Homo sapiens: one gene and its partners. The protein of the gene in region 1 purifies or fractionates together with the protein of each later gene. This does not show direct contact. Each region holds a gene or a part of one and is shown on either strand. Other genes may lie near its edges.

Region 1 (7,464 bases):
AAAGGTGTGGTCTGGAAGAAGGTTCCCCAACTCACCCCTGACTCCCAACTCACCCTGCCTCCCACCTTAAGGAATGCGCAGAACAGGAAAAGCAGTATCTGGCTTGAAGCACTTGCTTAGAAATGGCCCTTGCAAGCTATAGCTAAGATAAGAGAGGAAGGAAAGGGAGGAGACAGAAGTTACTGGCTGAGGCCCGGAAGGTAAAACCTTGACCGAATCCTGTCTTTGTAGCCTGCAGTGGGAGTCAGACAATAATATCAACACTTCACTGGGTCTCCTTCCAAAAGTAACTCTATAGTACAACATGATGCTTCAGGTATAGAAACCTTGCTCTTATTTGTTTAGCCAAATGAAATGTGAATCTAATGCATTTGCTTTGGGGAAAATAATTTAGATTATGAGCAGTGCATCTACTTAGATTTTTGTCCCACAAAGCTGGCAATTCATTTAATAGTATGAACTATTTTGACTTCTGTGGTGTTCCAGCATCTAACCTCAACCCTTACTTCTAGCCATACCTCTTAGTTCCAACCAAACTGAAATATCCTTTGTTGCATGTACAGATCTTGATTTTTGACTTTGATCACACGATATCCTACTATATCCCACTCCGTCTCGTTGGGTTCAGGGCGTCTATATTTTTCAAAGGTCTAGTTCCTTCAAGTCTTCTTCAATTCAGTTTTCCTGAGCAAATACTGATTGATCTTTTTGCTGAACAAAATAGACATTGTCCTCATGAAGCTTACTCTTTTAAGCCAGCAGTAAGACTTTCTTCTTTGAACATCTATAGCACGTGATTTTACCTCTCCTATGACACAACCTTTTATACCTTAAAGTAACTTATGATCATACCGTAGTTCCCAGAGAAGACTGATAAGAACATGACCTCTTACGGCTCAACATACCTCACTCAGTAAGTAATAGTTGAATGAATATGAAAAGCATAAAAAGGCCTCTGAATAACAAGTCCAGGAATTGACACCAAAGAGCTTATTAGCTAAACACTTCTTAGCAAAGATAGTAAGTCAACTTAGCACTGGCTTACAACTACTTTGTAGCTTATGATAGAGGGATTCCAAAGAAGAGAAATGAATGGACTGAAAACTTTCTAAACTAACCACCCTTGTTGCTGGCCAGCTTCGCTGATTTCCTGAGCCCTGAGGAGCTGGGCACCTAGCACTGGGGAAACAGGAGGAGGGGGCAGATGTGTAAAGCAGAAGCTTTCAGTTTACCACAGGGAATATAATAAACAAACAAACAAACAAACAAAATTGTGGTTCAATGGAGTGGTTGAATAAGTGTGAGTGAAAGTATTAAATATTGTCGAGCAGAGGAAGTGAAAAGCATAATTACTTCGAAAGAACTAATAAAGAGATTTTTTCAATAGAAAATGAATATTAATGCAGTTGACTCTGTTAATCCCTCAAATTCTGAAAACCTTATACAAATTTAATAAAAGAAATAAATGTTGTAAACAGATTAAATGTAATTCTCTTCATTAAATACGAAGAACTTATCCTACTTTTATGAATTTTCATATTAGAAGGTCAGCATTTTTCCTGCCATAAAACATCTTTAAAATGGTAACTCCTAGACAGCCACTAATTTGCATTTCAATAAACAGGCTAAAAATGTCTACAGAAGTTATGGTGACTCTTTTCTAGCAAGGTTGAATGAGAAATTCAATTCTTTTAATACTCAGGTGCAACACTGAAGAACATCATTTCAGTTGCAATATCTTTTTGAGTATCAAAGGTAAATTTCAGTGCTATATATACATTTCGTATTGGAGGCTCAGGGGTGAGCCTGCGATTTTTGTCATAGGACGTTAGAGACACAAAAACATTTTACAAAGAACTTTGCTTTTAGCTTGCATTGTTTTGTGAATATGAACTGATGCAAAGACCACGTGTGTAAGACACTTTATACCTGAATAACCAATGAAAGGCCATTTGGGGCTCCATATTAATCACAAACAAGAAAACCCACTTTGCTTCGTTAATTATTAGCAGTTCTTACTACGAATAATTAGAAGGGAAACCAGATGCCCTTCTCTTATAAACAAGTGTCTATCTAAATCAACGAACCTGTACAGATTAGACCCTGGGTGAATTCATGCTTCTCAAAAACCTTGTGTTTGACTTCAGTCCAATAGCTCAGTCTACCACACTTGTGAATCTCCCAAAGAACGAAAACAAAGCTCTAAGTTTTTTTTATTCACAAGAGGGAAAACCAGGACTATTTAGAAAGCAGAAGATGGAGAGGCCACTGCCTAGCCTATCCAGATAAGTTTATTTGGATATAGTTTACTCTATCCAGAGAGTCAAATCCCCTAAACACGAGACTGCTATTTCCAAGGTGGAAAGGGAAAGAAAAGAAATGCAAAAGGTAAAAGTTAAAGGAAAAGGAACAAAACAAAACCGCGTGCGGCTGGAAGTGCGCGGGTTTCTGCCGTCGCCTCGCGGAAAAGGCAGAAGCGTCTGCAAAGGTCCTTCTGCAAAGGTCCCGGTCCGTCCAGCTCAACCCACGTTAGCCCGGACCGTGACCCAAGGGCAGCCCCGAGCCTCTGACCCTCTCCGCCGCCCTCCGTCACTGACCTGCGTAGACAAAGAGCAGGACCAACTTCGGAAGCAAGACCCCTGGACGCACGGGTAGCCTCGGAGCGTCCATCCAAGCCGGTGGCCTGAGGCTTGGAGCGAAGGGAGAGCCCGGAACCGGAGGGAATGGGGAGGATGGAGGGCGATCAGATGGAGAGAGCAGCGCTCCTGAGAGCCGGGTGGAGCAGAGACCCGGCCATTGCCTAGGGAGCCTTCCAAGGGAGCCCGGGCCGGGCGCGTCCCGGGCCAGCGACTGCGGGACTCCGCGGAGCTGGGGCGCCCGTGGCCCGAGACGGGCTGCGCTGGGGGCCCAGGTCTCTTTGTCTCGCCCCACTGCGCTCAGGCGCGGGGAAGGCGGCCACTCCGGCGTCCTTGGCCACCCAGGCTCACATTTCATCTCCGCGGGTGGCAACGACTGCGGGCAGGGGGCGGGGGTGGCCCCGACTCCTCCCCAAGCCCGGGTTCTTCCTTCTAAAGAGTGACTAGGGGACCAAGAAACTTTTCCTAACCCCTTGCTTTGGCGATTGCTATGGAGTTCAGCCTGCTCCTTTTTAACCTTGCCTCCACTACAATTTTTCCTTTCTAAGCAATGGATGAACAACTTTGCTTTTTATCTTTAAACAAAGGGAAGGAATTTTCAGGGTTGAAGGTATTCGACAAAGAGTGACAGTGAAGAAAACTCAGGATTGGGAAGTACAGAAAGTGTATGGCATCTCTGCTGAAAGCTGATAAAATGTTTATTATTTTTTCCTGTAAATTCAGAAAAAAAAAACACAACAGTGCACACTGTCGTTATGATTTTGACGTTTTGGAGTTACTGGCCTATGCAATTAAACAAGAGAAAGAAAAAGATTTATGAAAAATGAAAGCTAAATTGTCATTAGCAAATGAAATACGTGTATACATGGAAAATCAAAGTTAATCAACTATAAAGCTCTTGTTTAGCAAACCAATAGTTTTCTTTCCTGCAAACAAAAATCAGAAAGTTCTCAATGTTATGCATGAAGGAAAAAAAATGATACGAATAAGTAAAGAGATACTTTTTTCACTAAGAAAATTTAGTAGGATAAAGACAACAAGATTCCCCAAATTATTATATACATTTGGAAATAAAATTGATCCCAATTTTTAAAATAACATGATTTTTTTCAAACCAATCTGATTCTAAAGTTTATATGGAAAATAAATATGTAAGAATATCTATTTAAAACAAGAGTAATGAATGGGAATAATGAATGGGATATTACATATAATATCACAATAATTAAAACAGTTTAGATTAACATTGGAATAGATAGGCTTAGTGAAAGAGAAAAGGTAACCCAAAAGTAGACATGAGTATGTACAGCAATTTAATTTATGGTTTAAAGAAATATCAATGTAAAGTAGTAGGGGAAATGATGAGTTACTCAGTGAAAAGTGTTGAGGCCGTAAATAGCCATCTGTGGAGCCTTATCTTTTTACATCAAAATCAGTTCTATATGAATTACATATTTAAGATACAACTATGAAAATATTAGATTAAAAAATAAGAGGATAACATTCAAATAATTGTGGAATAGGGAAGCCTTTTCTAAGCATTATAAAAAACTCAGAAACCATAAAACAAAATATTGACCAACTTGACTAAATAAGAATTAATACTTCCAGTTGGCAGACATTTAACTGGCAAAAATATTTGCAATGCAAAGTCCTAATCTCATTATTATACTGAGCTTAAAAAAATCAATAGGAAAAACAACCAAGAGATAACTGAGGAAGGATATTAATAGACACTTCATACAAAACAAATAAATATAAATATAGAAATAAAATTGACAGTGAGACATCACTTTTCATGTATCAAACCAACCAAATACAAAACCAAATGAACTCTTAAGGGAAACGGTGTGGTTATATGTACGAAAATTCAAATACACATGTACTTAATTTAGTCAGTTCTCTTCCAGGAATTTTTTCCTGTAAATGCAGTGCTGCAAGGGAATACGAGAGTGGGAGGAAACATCACCCCCAAAATAAACATAAGCTAAGCTCTTTACTGTGTTTTACACGTTGGTGAAGGCCCAACCATCCACCATGTTCTAAAGAAGGCTGATCAGTTCCACCTTTTTTCTCATCCTCGCTGGCCAATCTATCACCAAGTTCACCTAATCTGTCCACCTGAACACCACCCAAACGCATTTTAAATTATCATCTATTTCTGTCCTAATCTAGACTTTTATAGTCTTGATTATATTCAGCCTCCCTGCCTTCAGAGATGTTTGCCAGACTGAAGCTGGAATATTTCTTCTTAAACTACAGATTTCATCATGTTCACTCACTCAGTAGCATCCTGTTGCCCTTAGGTTAAAATTCAAACATTTAATCCAGGGTGTTCAAGAACTTGTTCACTAGGTCCTGTCATTCTTGTAGCCTGATCAAAACATTCCACTGGGAAGCACAATTTCTAAATAACTGGGACAATGGTTGGAACCTAGAGAAAATCCCAGGCATACAAGCCCTTTGAGTCTTGAAGGAAGAAGATACAGATGGAAGTCAGTGTTTGCAGAGCTGAAGAATGGTATCCAGCCTGCTTGGAATAGAAAAATGATTGTCTTTGCAGATGAGACTGAATACAGATCCTTGATGGGCTGGTAGCTGTGATAGAAGAAGGGGCTTCTCCCGCCCACTTTTTGACACAGATCAGGAAGAGGCTGGCTGTTGCCACTGAGGCCCATAGGAAGTTGCAGTGTTGGTCAGGATAGTCTCTTTCAGCTTACTTTTGAGAACAGAAAGACTTCTCATACAGTTCAACAGATTGGTCGAGCAAGCTTGCCTGCAAGTGTACCTTCCAGAGCTGCTACCTTGAAGTATGCTGATGCTCAGGAAACCAAACTCAATTGACATGGAAAGGCAAAGAAAGATGGCAAGCCATTTAAGAAATTGTGGTAGTTAAAAGAAAGGATTTGAAGGAAAAAAAGATGTATATACAAATATGTATGGAATGAGAAACCTTAAGAATACAACATCAGAGGAACTAAAAGAGTTCCTGGAAATTAAAATAAATGTGGTTTGAGGTTTTAAAATTTACAGAAAAAAATTATAAAATAGTCACATTAAAAAAAAAAAACTTAGATTGTTAGATCAGGCCAGGCGCGGTGGATCACGCCTGTAATCCCAGCACTTTGGGAGGCCGAGGTGGGTATCACTTGAGGCTAAGAGTTCAAGAGCAGCCTAGCCAACATGGTGAAACTTCATCTGTACTAAAAATACAAAAAATTAACTGGGCGTGGTGGTGTGCACCAGTAGTCTCAGCTCTCAGCTATTCGGGTAGCTGAGGCAGGAGAATCAGGAGGTAGAGGTTACAGTGAGGTAAGATCATGCCACTGCACTCCAGAGTGAGACTCTGTCTCAAAAAAAGAAAAAAAAAATTGTTAGATCAAATAAGGAGTATTTTTCATATAACAGAGGAAAAAAAACACAAAGAAATAGAAACCACGAATAAAAATATAAAAACCCAAAGAATGGGAATAATGTGCAGGCTAATAGTTTCCAGAGAAACACAAAGTGAAAAAGCAAACGTCAAAGAAATAATGTTTTAAAATTCTGAGCTGTAATAAAATTTGAATTTTCATATTTAAAATGGTGAGTTAGTTCCGAGAAATTTTTTTTGAAAAGAAGCACAAATATGTACATATCTTAGAGACCAGTTTCAACAAGTATAAATTTAAAATCATATACATTTTCATATATAATTTTTATGTTTCCTTGAAAAAGAGAATCTGACAGGCATCAGATTTCTCATTTGCAACCCTGGAATTGAAGAGGGTGAAACTATTTTTAACCCACTGAAAGATAAAGAATGCAATCCAAGAATCCTCTTCTAAATCAGATTTTATTAATATTTCTGATCCACTATGACATCTAGAACAATGTTTATTACAATTTTAAAAAATAGTTTACATGTACAACAGAGGTAAAACAGTTAAGTAAATTAGGGTATATCCACATTATGAACTCATATCTAATGTTTAAAATTGTTGAAAAGATCTTTAAGATATATAGTTAAATAAGAAATGGAATACAAAATGATCTCAACAGTGGAAAAATGCAGCTAATGTTTTCATCTTTTATTGAACTTTCTTTTTCCCCACTTTCTTCCTGGGTATCTCTTTTTTTTTAAAAAAAAAAGTACCTCTGAATGAGGTATATGCTGAAATTTTAAATGCTTGAAGATGATTAAAAAGCTATAGGTGAAATATGACAAGTAAGTAGTTTTAACTTATAGTTTTATTTAGGACCAAAAAGTTAGAATAGGACAGGACTCCACAGATTGTCTAGGTCAGTTTCCCAGTTTCTTACGTAAGAAGACTAAGGCCAAATTACCAAGTCAGTTAGAGGCAGGCTAGATCCCATGGCAAGAGGCCACATAGCAGATTTTGCCATGATGTGATAGAGTGTGTTCAAGTTTGATGATAATCCCCTTTTGAGTTCCCTGACCCACATTTCTCTCTTCCAATAATTTATTTCACCATAGAATCAAACGGATTAGTATAATGTCTTACAATTAATTACCTTTTAATAAATACAACAAAAACATTTTATGTACACGCAAGGGCTCTACTTGTATCTGTTCTTCATCTTCATTTGACGACGTGTGAATGCCAAGGAAAAAAAAGTACTTATACAGAAACATGCAAAAACCCCAGAAGAAAACAAGAAGAAAAACCATGAAGAAAAGGGGAGATGATTTAAGTGTCGCATTTAAGGTGTGGAAGGAATATCAAATGTTTATTATGTACCAAGTCCATTTCTAAGTTCTTTAAGTTTATTCATGAATACTCTCAAAATCTCAGTGAGGTAGATACTATTATTATCACCTCTATTT
Region 2 (7,113 bases), on another chromosome or scaffold:
TAAATTTAAATGAATTACAGTTAAAAAATCAAAAAATTAAGTTTTTCTGTCTCACTAGCCATATTTCAAGGGCTCAGTGGCTACATGTGACTAGTGGCTGCCATATTGAACAGTGCAGGTGCAGAGCATTTCCATCATCACGGAAAGTGCCATTAGACGGTACTGGTCTAGGGTATTTAAACACTAGTGTCAAGAAGTGACATTTCTTTCCCCTCCCCCCATCCTGGCAGGGAAACATGCACCTAAGGTTCATTCAGGTGCAGAGTTTTGGGCCAAGACCCAGAACATCCTGATCAGTGAGTCTAAGGAAGGAAGTGAAAATGAGTACATTTTAAAAAGCTACCCAGGGGATTTTCCCTGGGTAAGACACAACCAAGTCTTACCGCTGGTGACTGGTAAACAGAGGTTAGGATCTTAGAAAATTACATGTACCACAGGGCTGCAGCTGAGAGCTCCAAATTCCACTGCTTATGGGGTGAAAAGCGTTTCTTTCCAAAAGCTACATTAACTAATGATCCACCCATACGTAAAAAATAATAAAATGTGCATAAATGTGAAACCCTCTGATTTTCCTTCCCTTGTTAAACATTGGAAAAGGAAGTCAGTCGTATAATTTCAAAGCTCTGCTCATGTCTTTATTAAGTTAACATTCTCAGCACAAAATATGCTAATGTATTTTTTTTTAAGTAGATAAACTGCCAGGCACATTTTCACGTTTTCTAACTTAGCCTATAATAAGAGTGAAAAGCTCCAACAACCAAACACCTCTTTTCAGCCTTCTCAAAGACATGATAAATATCATTTCTGTGTGCTTTTATTTGTTCATTCATTCTCTCACTCAACAGAAATTTTTGGAGCACATAAAATGTACCAGACAATATTCTAGATACTTGATATACGTATAAAAATCCTCATGGAGCTAACATTCTAGTGGTTTTATGTACCTGCATATCAATGCCACTCATGCATGGGAGTTGGGGATAGTAAGAAAACCAAAGCAATAAGTAAGATGTATATTCTTTTGGAAGGTGGTAAATGCTAAGGACAAAAATAAAGCAGGAAAAAGGGATTGGGAATGTTGGAGGTACTGCAATTTTTAGTAAGGTGGTTAGGGAAGGTCTTGCTGCGAAGGTAATGGCTGTTGATGTCTCTGCATAACTGAAATGTGTTTCCCTTCAGGGCCCTGGAATGCCCTAGCAGCACCTGCTACAAGAGTGTAGGCCAGTCACCCTCCTCCCCCTAAAGTAAACTTTGGGGGTTATCTTACCTCACCTCAATTTCCATCTGATAATTGTCTTGGCAGCTGTCTCCCCAAAGCTCTTGGTGCAAGTGACACCACCCTCCCAACGCCTTGGCAGATGACTTTGCGTGGCGAATCCTTGTAAGTCTTGCCTTTCTTTAGCCACTATGACAGGGCTGTAGTTTGTCAACCTTCCAATAAGCTTTGGGACTGCGCTAGAGAGCAGGTTAGCGAAAGGACCTCTGATTGCAGGCAATTTAAAAGAGCCTTCTTTGCAAGAGCCAGAAACTTTTAAAATATGCAATTAAAAATTGTATGCATGCCCAGAGACCTTTTAAACTCTTTTAGATATAACTAACCAAAAATAACTTTCTTTCCTAGGTGCCAGGCTCCTAGTACAGGGGTGTAGGGGACTAATGTCTCCCTCTTTCTCTCTCTCTTTTTGTTTTGGATAACATTTTTGATAGAAAAGAAACAGGGCAGATGGAGAAGCTGTGTGTGGCAAGGACAGGGTATAAGAAGTAAGTAAAGTTAGAAGAGATGAAAGAAGCTGCTCATGAAATTAGGTCTACTACTTGGGATAATCAGAGAAGTTCCAGTAAGTTTCTCAATTACAGAGAAGTGCCTAGTAAAACCCAAAAGAAAACGTTTTGGTTTATGTTCAAAATGTTATTTGTGAATGTATCAAGAAAACTCAATAAAACCTTAGGTAGCATGTTTGGAAATAATTTAGCGATACCTCTATCTGTAAATTTATTTTATTTTTATTATTTTTTTGAGACAGAGTTTTGCTCTTGTTGCCCAGGCTGGAGTGCAATGGCGCAATCTCAGCTCACTGCAACCTCTACCTCCTGGATTCAAGTGATTGTCCTGCCTCAGCCTCCCAAGTAGCTGGGATTACAGGCATCCACCACCTCATCTGGCTAATTTTTGTATTTTTTTTTTTTAGTAGAGACAGGATTTCACTATGTTGGCCAGGTTGGTTTTGAACTCCTGACCTCAGTGCTCCACCTGACTCAGCCTCCCAAAGTGCTAGGATTACAGGCATGAGCCACCACACCCCCAGCCTAATTTATTTTAAATAAGACAGCTGAATTTGGAGCTGTGTGGCTACTGTTAGTAACTACTTAGTTTAGGGATTTTGTGTGTGTGTGTTGTGGGGGGGGTTTCTTTGTTTGTTTTTTTGGTTTGTGTTTTTTAAACAAATATCCTAAACTTGTTTTAAACAGTAATTCTTAGCCCTAGGCATGCGTTGGCTATATCACAAATTTAATAAAAGATCAGATAAATAGGAAAAAATCAGTTGAATTTAGAATTCAATTCAAAGTAATGACCCTTAATTTTGAAAATAGTCATTCTACATTTTTGTCAAATTATTATTTGTGACTATAATATGTTTTCTGGTATTATCTGTGCATTTTCAGCCTGGATTTTCCGTTTGATTAGTTCTGTTGGTTTTTCAAGTGGAAGCCAGGCCCAAAGCAGCACATCAGAAGCCATATAGCAAAATAAAATTAAAACAAAACAAAAGACATAAAACAGACCAGTTCCATTTTCTGTGAAGGGGTTTGTGGCAGCTCAATTCCTGTCAAAGTGCATGAATGGAAACCAAGAAGTGTGTCACCTGACAGGGACTAGTTTCATCCCTCTCTTGTAGTTTCTTTTGGACCCTGGAGTTGACATACTCAATGCTTTACCTCCCTCCATCAACACTGGGGCCTAGGAACATCCTTATTCCTCAAATTAAGAGAGGACTTTCTTAAGATGCTATATGCCCAAAGGCTCTAGGGCATAAGCGTGAAGAATTATCTATATGTTGTCTCAAATCTTGTTTAATTCTCCTTTTCACCAGTGGTGACATTCCTTATGCGTTTCTTATTTTAATCCAGGCAAACCCTTTTTTACACGAAACCCTTCTGAGTTGAAAGGCAAGTTCATTCACACAAAGCTGCGGAAAAGCAGTCGTGGCTTTGGCTTCACGGTGGTTGGAGGGGATGAACCTGATGAGTTTCTCCAGATCAAGAGCTTGGTCCTAGATGGTCCTGCTGCATTGGATGGCAAGATGGAAACAGGTAGCGTCAACATGGCCTTAGTGTGTTCTGTGTGGTGAGACTCCAATCCAGGAGATAAACATGTGCAATCATGATGTTGTTTGTTTGAGCAAGACCAAGCAACGTCATGATTGCACATGTTTACAGCTTTAAACACCTTGAGAATGAGCCAGGTCTCCACATTACATAAATTCATCCCTTGGGACAGATTAAAACCTGTGAAGTCATTTTAAGTTTGGGAAACTGTTTGAGTACAGTAAAGCAATGAGTTACTAAAACTGTAGATCCCCATTTAAATAAATGAATTCTAAACTTGGATTTCTGCAGTGAGATTTTTTTTTAGGAGAAAGCTCCAATGTTCTGTGAGTGATTATTACATTCTCATTAGCAGGGAAGACACTAGGTGCTGAAAGAACACTTTATTAGCTGTTAAAATCAGTAATAGAAGCACTTTATACCCTATAGTATCACACCCACATGCAGTTTCAGTTCAGCTTTATGTTAGTGGGAGATATTATAATACTGATGACAATTTTCTGGGTGCTGTTTTCTTAACCCCCACACTCTTGCCTTCTACAGGGGATGTGATTGTAAGTGTGAATGACACCTGTGTTTTGGGACACACACATGCTCAAGTTGTGAAGATCTTCCAGTCCATCCCCATTGGTGCCAGCGTGGACCTTGAACTCTGCCGAGGTTATCCATTGCCTTTTGATCCAGATGACCCCAATACAAGTTTAGTGACCTCGGTAGCCATTTTGGATAAAGAACCAATTATTGTGAATGGGCAAGAGACCTATGATTCACCAGCTAGCCACAGTAGTAAAACAGGCAAAGTCAATGGCATGAAGGATGCCAGGCCAAGCAGCCCAGCGGACGTGGCTTCAAATAGTTCTCATGGTTATCCTAATGACACTGTTTCTTTGGCTTCCTCCATAGCCACTCAGCCAGAACTCATAACTGTTCATATTGTCAAAGGGCCAATGGGCTTTGGTTTTACTATCGCAGACAGTCCTGGTGGGGGTGGCCAAAGAGTGAAACAGATTGTTGACAGCCCAAGGTGCCGAGGCCTGAAAGAAGGGGATCTCATAGTGGAAGTTAATAAGAAGAACGTGCAGGCCCTAACTCACAACCAAGTGGTGGATATGCTGGTTGAGTGTCCTAAGGGAAGTGAGGTCACATTGTTGGTGCAACGAGGAGGTAAGTAGGGTTGTTTTGTTCTTTGAATTTTTTTTTTATCCCAAATTCATTGCTTAACTTACTCATCTTCAGATGACCACTGGGGGCTTTTTAAATTTATTTAAATGTTTCAAAATGCCTACTGATTTCTCCAAATACTAACCTCTTTAGCATAAAAATTGTGGTTTATACATTATGACAGACATATGCAGTTAGAATGATACCTTAAAACAGAAATCAGATTTTGCCTTTTTAAAATGTTAAGATTTAAAAACCTAAGTTGGGTGTGGTGGTACCCACCTGTAGTCCTGGCTGCTTGAGAGGCTGAGGCAGGAAGATCACTTGAGCCCAGGCATTTGAGTCCAGACTGGGCAACATATTGAGACCCCATTCTCTAAAAAGTTTTTTTATATATATATAAAAAATAATAACCTTTATCCTTTAAATCTCCTGAACTTGGCCTGCATAGCCTGCAAAATGTGGCTATGGTCACTCCAAACTTGTCTCATGTTCCTCTCCTCCATCTGATGGTGCTTTAGCCACACTGGCTGCTTTTATGGAGCTCCTTTAATGCTTCAAGCCTTTTCTTGCCTCAGGCCCTTTGTATTTACTGTCCGTTCTGCCTGGAATGGTCCTTTCCCAGCTCTTCCCAGCTGGCTCAGTCCCATTCAGGTCTCCTTATGAGAGAGGGCTTCTCCCATCACTTTATCTAAAGTAGCTCCCAACACTTCCATATAATCTTTATCACAGTTTTTCATAACCTTGATCATCATCACCTTTTTAGCACAAGACGTTATTTCATGCTTTTATTTATTTTTCATTATTTGTCTTTCATTAGAATATAAAGCTCCATAAAGCCAGGGCCCATGTGTGCATGTGGACAGCTGTTATCCCCAGCATTTAACACAACACCTGACTCCTTTTAGGTATTTATGAATGAATAGGTATTAAGTGAATAGGTATGTGATTATTTCTATTTGGCAGAAACAAGAGGTCTGCTAATCATATTAAACACTTCCCTCCACATGCTCGCGTTTAGTAGTTTAGGATCTCAGAGATCTGGGTTATTCTAAATCTCGAGGCATTAAGCTTCCTCCTTTCTCCTTGAGTCCGTATCCCACCCTCTGCCTCACCAGAAAACACAGGACGTCACACTGAGCAATACTTTCCACCATATTGAAGTGTCTTGCTCCTGGAATATATACTTATATGTGATTAGTCGTGACTGATAGTTTTACACAGTGGGCCTGAGAATGGCTGTTTCCCTGATCCTTGCTACCATGATTTGTTTCATGAACAACATATTCAGGCCTTTTGAAAAGAGATCAAGAACCAGACTTTGACTTCCTTTTGGTTTGTTGCAACAGGAGAGCTCATTTGTGTCACAGCAGCCAGATTCTCATGTTTTCATGAACCTGTGTGTTCTGCGATCAGAATGGCTGGGGTCATTTGAAGGAAACCCAAAATACAGAGTAGCTGTCTATGTGAATTGAAATGCTCAATGAGCCTGGCTTAGGCAGTTATAAAAGGCATTGTGCAAATTTTATTTTTTTTAAAATGTCATTTCCACCAACTAATTTTCAAGTCTCTTCTTGTACCTAGATCACTTGACTGCTCAGAGAACTGGTTTTAAACAGTAGCCAAGATGTATGTAGTAGGAAATGACTTGGGTATAAGAACGATTATGACAATAATGATGATGGTGATGATGAAACCTGGCACTTATAGAAGAATCAGTGATACACAAAGCACTTTCATACCTGCACGTGCCTCTCCACTGATATTTGTCACTTCCCTGTGAGGTAGGAAGGTGCCACCCCACAGTAGTTCTGAGCTGTTCACCCTGGCTCTGTGGTTTCCAGTCCAATGTTCTGCCCTACTTAACTGAATAACACTGATTTTTGTATAGTTGCTTAATACTGAGGCTGACAGCCTGGAAACTTTCAAATAATTCTTGGTACATCAGGTGCACCTCTGATTCAGCCACTGCTCATTTGACAGACACAAACCACCTTGTTCTCCTAACTCATCTATCCTCTTTCTCATTTCTGTTATTGATGTGGTTTATTATCCCATTAGATTCACTTCTAAGGAGACCAAACATAAAGTTTCATTATAGCCAACTAACTTACACATGTATTAGAACCATATTGTAATGAATTCGCCTAAGCCAGCAAACAACTGATTATAGAAACGTACTCCTTGATTTTATTTTTTATTTTTATTTTTGAGACAGGGTCTCACTTTGTCACCCAGGCTGGAGTGCAGTGGTGCCATCTCAGCTCACTGCAGCCTCAACCTCCTAGTTTCAAGCGATCTTCCTGCCTTAGCCCCCCAAGTAGCTGAGACTATAGGTGCATGCCACCACTCCCGGCTGATTTTTGTATTTTCAGTAGAAATGATTTCTCCATGTTACCCATGCTGGTCTCGAACTCCCGCGCTCAAGGGATCCACCTGCCTCGGCCTCCCGAAGTGCTAGGATTACAGGCATGAGCCACCACACCTGACTATACTCCTTGATTTTAAATATGTTTGCATTCTCTCTTCTTAATTCCCAATGCCATCTTCTCATTAATGGTGTTACATTTTATAACATTTATATGAAAAATCCGGAATATATTGCCATATTCATCAACATCTACA
Region 3 (7,113 bases), on another chromosome or scaffold:
GCTAAGGAAGATAGTGAAGGATTGAAAGGTTTTTTGTTTTGTTTTGCATTTGCACATGATCAGTATTTTAAAACTGGAAGAGGCTTGTGATTCATTTATCTGCTGAGTAGGAAAACAGCTTAGTAGAGACAGAAAGAGTAAGGGTACCAGAGAAAAGATTATTAGTGGATCAAGGCCCTTTATTTAAGAGGTAGACTCCAGAGCACCAAGGAATGTATAAGTAATTAATGGTCCAATTGGAAATTTGTTTTTCAACTCTACAACTCAGCTAAAATGAATGTATATCTTAAAGATATCCAGTGAAGATAGACACTTTTATTTTTTGAGGATATTTGTTCCTCAATTAATTCCTGGAAATCATTTCTTTTATAATGCCCTACAATTTAAAAAGAGATGTATCAATATTTTAAACATTATTGGCAAAAGGGTGAGAATATCATCTATAAATTTTGCATCAACAGAATAGCTATTTTCATTTTTCCATTTTATCTGTTACTTTCTTAACCCTATACTGTTTATCCATTCCAGGAAGTTAATACAGATTTCTAAAAGCAAGTTATATAGTATGAGTTTACTCTATTTGGTATGCTATTTAAATGATACTACTTTTTCTTCTTTTTTCCTCCCAATAAGGATCAAGATTCCCTAAAGAAAAGCCAAGGTGTTGGTCCAATTAGAAAAGTTCTCCTCCTTAAGGAAGATCATGAAGGCCTTGGCATTTCAATTACAGTAAGAAGTAGTACTTCCAGTATCATTTTCTACAGTTATCTAGTATAATCATGCTCCTTTGTTGGACATCACTGGGGAACAGAATATTCTGGATATATTTTTTAAATAACTAAAATTTATCCCCATGGGGATAAATGTTTGCTTTTGTGTAAATATTTTTTTAAGAAATAAATATTCCTAGCAACTATTAAGTGTACCTTTAGTAAGCATAGTTTAACATTTTTATTATGATTCACTTAATAGTTCTGTGCCATATACTGTGATGCCTCTAGGAGCCCTTGGGAATAGACGTGGCTGTTTTCTTCTATGTTAAATGGCTTCAGATTGTATTGTTCTCTCTCGGAGTACGTGTATCTTTCTCTTGCCTCATTTATTAGCTGTCAGATTTCACTGGCTCTTGGGTCCAAATGTTATATATTCTTTTTTTTAAATTCGATGCCTTTAGGAGTCATTTTGTTGTCATCTCAGTGCTTTAATGAATAAGGTGGCTTTAATTTTCATTTGGTAATACTTAGGCACTGAGCAAGATCATTTGTTTTTTTAGTATTGCTTAATGTAGAAATGTTTCTTATAATAAAAAGCTCATCTAATCTATATTTCTTGAATACTTACCTTTTTTTTTTTTATGTGCTGCCTTCAAAGAGCATACATTTTAGCAGGACAAATAAGACACACACACACACCCCTACACACACGCAACAATGATATAAGCTAGAGAGTGATAGGTACCAAATACTGCATTTTTTCAATTCTACATTGCATATATTTTCATATTTTAACTTCTCTGAAATTGAAATTTATCTTATAATCTTAAAATTATTTTTGTGGCACCTAAAATAATTGGTCTTGTCATTCGTAGTGATTTAGACTTGATAAAATGTAATGGTGCTATGGAGTACTAACACATAAGTTTTTTTTAATTTAAGAATTTAGCCAATTTCTGTTCAATACTCTGATAATTTTTACCATTACTTAAGTAGCAAATAAAATTTTACCCAGCATTTATAGAGACAGCATAGGTGTTTAATGAAATATATTTTTAAGAAAATATTTTATCTCTAGATTAATCGGTAACTGTACCTTACAAAGAGTACTTTAATTTACTGCCCTTTGTTGTTGTTAGGGTGGGAAAGAACATGGTGTTCCAATCCTCATCTCTGAGATCCATCCGGGGCAACCTGCTGATAGATGCGGAGGGCTGCACGTTGGGGATGCTATTTTGGCAGTCAACGGAGTTAACCTAAGGGACACAAAGCATAAAGAAGCTGTAACTATTCTTTCTCAGCAGGTAAATTCCCTTCATGTAATTAGAACTGGATCTATCAATTGGTTATGAATCTATTGAACACTGTATACTTCCCTACGAAGTTTCTAAAGTAGTAAAGTGTTTACACATAGTTCTTGTTTCCTTTGATTTAATGCTTTTATAGCTGACATTCAGTCAGATTTACTGAAAATGGACCATTCCATTTTGTTTACTTCATAACTTTGAGCAAGTTACTTAAGTCCTCTGTCCCTCAGTGTCCTCACCTGTGTGGGAGGGATTGAAAGAAAGCTGTGAGGATTAAGTATGTTAATACATATAAAGTACTCAGAACAGGACCTGAGACTGAAAAAACAACATCCTTAATGCCTAGAACACTATATATAAGGTATTACAGAAAAGACAGTGCTAGAAGTAGATTGATTTTAGTCATGGAATATTAAAATTGAAATCACACATAGAAACTATCTAGCCCAACTCTCTTAAAATGAGTAAACTAAAGTTCTTAGCGATGAAAGGATTTACTCAAAGTTGCCAAGCAAATAAATTATAGAATTGAGATTCATACTCAGGAGTCATATTTGTCATACAGTTGTACTTAAAATGTTGTTTTATTTTATTTCTTTCAAGAATAGAGTTGAGGGAATTAGAGGCATTGGTAGTACATTGAGATGTTTCTTGGATTATCAGTGTGGTATGCCTCTGTAGAATTGCATCTCAGAGTTGAAAGTGAATATTGTTCATTGGTTCAATTCTATATGATGCATAAATCTTTGCAACATCACTACTTCAATAATTACATTACAGGGAAGACTTGCTGATATCAACCAGTCCATTCCATTGTAATACAGTACTGATTTTTAGAAAGCTTTTTCTCATATTAAGCCTGAAATCTGTGTCTCCATGACAGCTACTCACAGATCTAATTCTGTCATCTAAAACTTTGCTGAAGACCACTGCATCATCTGTCTCTTTCTGCAAAATGGTATTTTTAAAGCATTAGCTGACAAGAGAGATCTAAGAATGCTACGCTATTCTCTTAAGTTAGTGTTTTATCAATCCATCTTGACTGTCATCCAGTAGCAAAAGAGTGGGATAACTGGTGAAGGAGCTATCAATGGGCAGCCATAAGTTTTAAGGAAATGCTAACTAAGCACATATTAAAATTCTGAGGTATAACCTTAAACTGCTGGGAAAGAAGAGCACCAAAGAGACTAACTTAGTGAGTAGCAGTCAAAAATGCCGTGTTTTCTTTTGAGCAAAGGCAAGCCATAGTTTTCAGAATTGCCAACACCACACTTATATGTAGTGGTTGGAGTCTCTTATTAAATGACAATTATAGCTTGGAAATTTTTCTTTTAACATAAAACGATCTGTAACATTTTTTTCTTTTTTGGAGCCAGGATCTCACTTTGTCACCCAGGCTGGAGTGCAGTGGCACAATTACGGACCACTGCAGCCTCAACCTCCCAGGCTCAAACAGATCCTCCGACCTCAGCCCCCTGAGTAGCTAAGACTACAGATGCCTGCCACCATGGCCAGCTAATTTTTTTTTTTTTTTTTTTTTTTGTAGAGATGGGTTTTGCCATGTTGCCCAGGCTGGTCTAGAATTCCTGAGCTCAAGCGATCCACCTGCCTCAGCCTCCCAAAGTGCTGGGATTACAGGTGTAAGCCACTGTGCCTGGCATGATCTGTAACTTTTTACTTGAATGTTTCATTGTTAAAGAATGACAGTACAAATATTACACAGTTAGTCTAGCATAATATAAAGATTAAGGACTTCAGAGTCAAACTTTTGTTTTTCTTTATTCTTGTTCATTATGTAGGGAAAGTTATCTGCTTTCTGCAGGACTCACTCAGCTTTCTCGTTCATGTAAAAGAGACTATAATAGGATTATTCTGGGGATTGAAGGCTATAATTTATAGTAAATATATAAATATAGTAATTACTATTAGTACGAGACAGAATACCTTGATTAACACTATGTCTGTGTCTGGTACTCAGTGTAAGTTCTTACTCAAGACCTATTGAATAAGAAACAAAAAATCATTTTGTAGGAGTTTCTTGAATTAGTTAAGAAAAGATTTATATGATGTCCTTATGGCAGTGTACAAAAATCATTTTCTAGGGGTTTCTTGAATTAGTTAAGGAAAGGTTTGTATGATATCCTTATTTAATATCTGACTATTTAGATGTATTTGCTGAATTGCTGTGTGCAGTACAAAGTAGCAAATAACTTTAAAACTGAATACTTGTTCCAAAATTCTATAAATTTAATAATTAAGCATCCTCTTAAATTTTAGATCTATTAGCAAAAAGACTATGGTCAGTAGAAAGAGCTACTATAATGTTTAAAGGAACTGTAGAGAGGATTCACGAGGCTGATCAGACATGATGGCCTCACTACCTCTTTAGATTCTAGAATTTTATTATTTATTTTCTGGAAATCAGCTATCTCTTAGATCTCTCTACCCCTAAGCCTTCCCACAAAGAATTTGGAAATCCTTTTTAAATTACAATTACAATAACTTGACTTTCTCATTTTCATTTCCTGTTTTAGAGAGGAGAGATTGAATTTGAAGTAGTTTATGTGGCTCCTGAAGTGGATTCTGATGATGAAAACGTAGAGTATGAAGATGAGAGTGGACATCGTTACCGTTTGTACCTTGATGAGTTAGAAGGAGGTGGTAACCCTGGTGCTAGTTGCAAAGACACAAGTGGGGAAATCAAAGTATTACAAGGTAAAAATCACTCTAAAAATTATTATTAACATATTCATTATTATTAAATGTTTAAAATGTGAAGGCCTCAGAATTTCTTCAGTAAAACTGTTTTGTGAGGAAATCAAAGGAATGAAGAGCTTTCCCTTGTTTATTGTTTTATTGTATACTATGCTAACAGTTTATTTACCATATATGTTCTTCTATATTCATCTTGGACTGTTAAGACAAGTACATTACCAGTTACTCTACTGCAAGTGATCCTTGAAAAATAAATAAAATTTTTTCTAGACTCTGAAACAAAGACCAATATACTATTTTGAGTAGATCTATCTTGTAGACTACATTGTCTGTCTGTCTTGATGCAAATTCATCTCTCACAATGAATTTTAAGCTAATTATGAATAAGTATGAAGTATACTGTCACCTTATGATTGCTATTAGAATCAACTTATATTATCTTGGGGATGTTTGGTTTAGTTCCTTTGCTATCATTTAGACATATTTTAAGGAAAAACTCTAGCACTTCCTTTTACATAGAGCAGTGGTCCTCAAATTGTGATCTGTGGATCTCTGAGGGTCTCTGAGATATTTTAGCAGAGTTCATGAGGTCAAAGCTTTTCATAATAATACTAAGACATCATTTGTCTTTTTTTGCTATGTTGATATTTGCACTGATGGTATCTGGTTGATGCAAAAGCAATTGGGGTAAAACTGCTGGTGCCTTAGCACTAATCAAGGCAGTGTTGCTAATACTAGTAACTGTACTAGTAATCATTGTTTTCTTCCTTGCCATCCATTCATAGTAAAAGAAGAAGATACCAATTTTGCTTAAAAATATCTTTGATGAAATGGCAGTAACAGTTAATTTTTAAATATTGACCTTTGAGTACCTGTCTTTTTAATATTCTTTGTGATGAGATGGGAAGTATGCATAAAGCACTTACTCTGCACACTGAACAAAGATGCTGGTTTCAAGGGAAAGTACATAAGTGACTGAACTAGCCATTTTTCTTCATGGAAGACAATTTTTACTTGAATGAATGACTAACAAAGTATGGATTTTCGGACTATTTGGAAGCCATTTTCTTAAAAATGAACAAAGTCCATCACTTCAGGAAAGACAACTGATAATATTTATTGCCAGTGATAAAATGTGAGCTCTCAAGTGAAAGTTAGAACTTTGTAAAACATACGTTGATCACCATGAGCTTGACAGCTTCCTAACACTTAAGCTTTTCTGATGAGATTGATGATGATATTAATGAATGTGATTTTTTGATACAGTAAAGTGAAATGTGTCAACTTTTGGAATTGCTACATAACTTCATGGTCCAATATTTTTCAAATCACCAGTAAATGAAGTTATAAAATTTTGCATGGGAAAAGATCCATTCAAAATGCAAGATAGGCAAATGGATTTTAATATAACAGAGTGTGAAAAGTTCACTGATAAGGTTTCAAATTCCACATTGTCAAATTTTTGTATAATATCAGAGAACAATACTGACAGTTATCTGAAAAGGCTGTTAAAATACTCTTCCATTTAGCAACTACATATCTGTGTGAGGCTGAACTTTCTTCATATACTTGTAATAGATTGAATGGAAGCAGATATATGAAAATACAGCTATCATCTACAAAGCCATTGAAGAGATTTGTAAAATTGTAAAATAATGCTACTCTTCTAACTAGAATTTTTTTGTTTGGAACATAGAGTTATTTGTCATTAGACAAATGTTATTTATATTAACCTTCTGGATTTATTGTCATTTTTAACAAAGAAATGAATTTTTTTTTAGATTTTTCAATTTTACCTACTAATATGGGAAACATCAGTAGCTATAATCCACATAAACAGAAGCTTCTTGGAGTCCTCAATGCTTAGTATAAAGGCCTCCTGAGACCAAAATGTTGAACTCCTGGCATGGAGTTTTATGGTGAACTGATAAACTGTTGCACTTTTGATAAACTTGTGTGTTGTAAACTGTCTGCACAAAGATAGCAGTAGCAGTTACTGTTTTCACTGTGCATCTTGAGCAAAACTATTGTGGCAGTATGTCAAAACCTTAATTGTTGGGCTGCTCTCCATATGGTTTCATTGTATTTCACACTTGCTGTTTTCTGTCGGGATTAGAAAGCCTGTCTCTTCCTTTTTTTTGTAACTGAGGCTAGAAGTCTTCTCTGTCACATATGCAAATTGCAGACACTTAAAATGTGACTCAACTAAAAATTTGTGTGTATATATCTTTTAACTGACTCACTTAAAAAAATGTATCTATTGGTTATTGTTTCACACGTCTATACTTTATAGATATATATATCACCTAAATAGGTGATATAGTCAACACTTATTTATTTATAAGCCTATTATTTATTTTATAGATGATCAGAATTCG

What was found.
Region 2: the proteins of CYYR1 (region 1) and MAGI1 purify together in Homo sapiens (affinity purification with mass spectrometry; 3 studies listed by BioGRID and IntAct, with this or other methods). This does not show direct contact.
Region 3: the proteins of CYYR1 (region 1) and GOPC purify together in Homo sapiens (affinity purification with mass spectrometry; 2 studies listed by BioGRID and IntAct, with this or other methods). This does not show direct contact.

The regions. Positions count from the first base shown.
Region 1 is NC_000021.9:26,570,271-26,577,734, forward strand, and holds the start of CYYR1 (cysteine and tyrosine-rich protein 1 isoform 1 precursor), read right to left. Parts: upstream 3,017-7,464; 5' UTR 2,995-3,016; coding exon of another isoform or gene 2,671-2,994; coding exon 2,598-2,670; intron 1-2,597.
Region 2 is NC_000003.12:65,426,898-65,434,010, reverse strand, and holds part of MAGI1 (membrane-associated guanylate kinase, WW and PDZ domain-containing protein 1), read left to right. Parts: intron 1-3,129; coding exon 3,130-3,312; intron 3,313-3,870; coding exon 3,871-4,491; intron 4,492-7,113. UniProt on the Homo sapiens protein: Plays a role in coupling actin fibers to cell junctions in endothelial cells, via its interaction with AMOTL2 and CDH5. May regulate acid-induced ASIC3 currents by modulating its expression at the cell surface.
Region 3 is NC_000006.12:117,564,476-117,571,588, reverse strand, and holds part of GOPC (Golgi-associated PDZ and coiled-coil motif-containing protein), read left to right. Parts: intron 1-633; coding exon 634-729; intron 730-1,730; exon of another isoform or gene 1,731-1,852; coding exon 1,853-2,017; intron 2,018-4,554; coding exon 4,555-4,735; intron 4,736-7,113.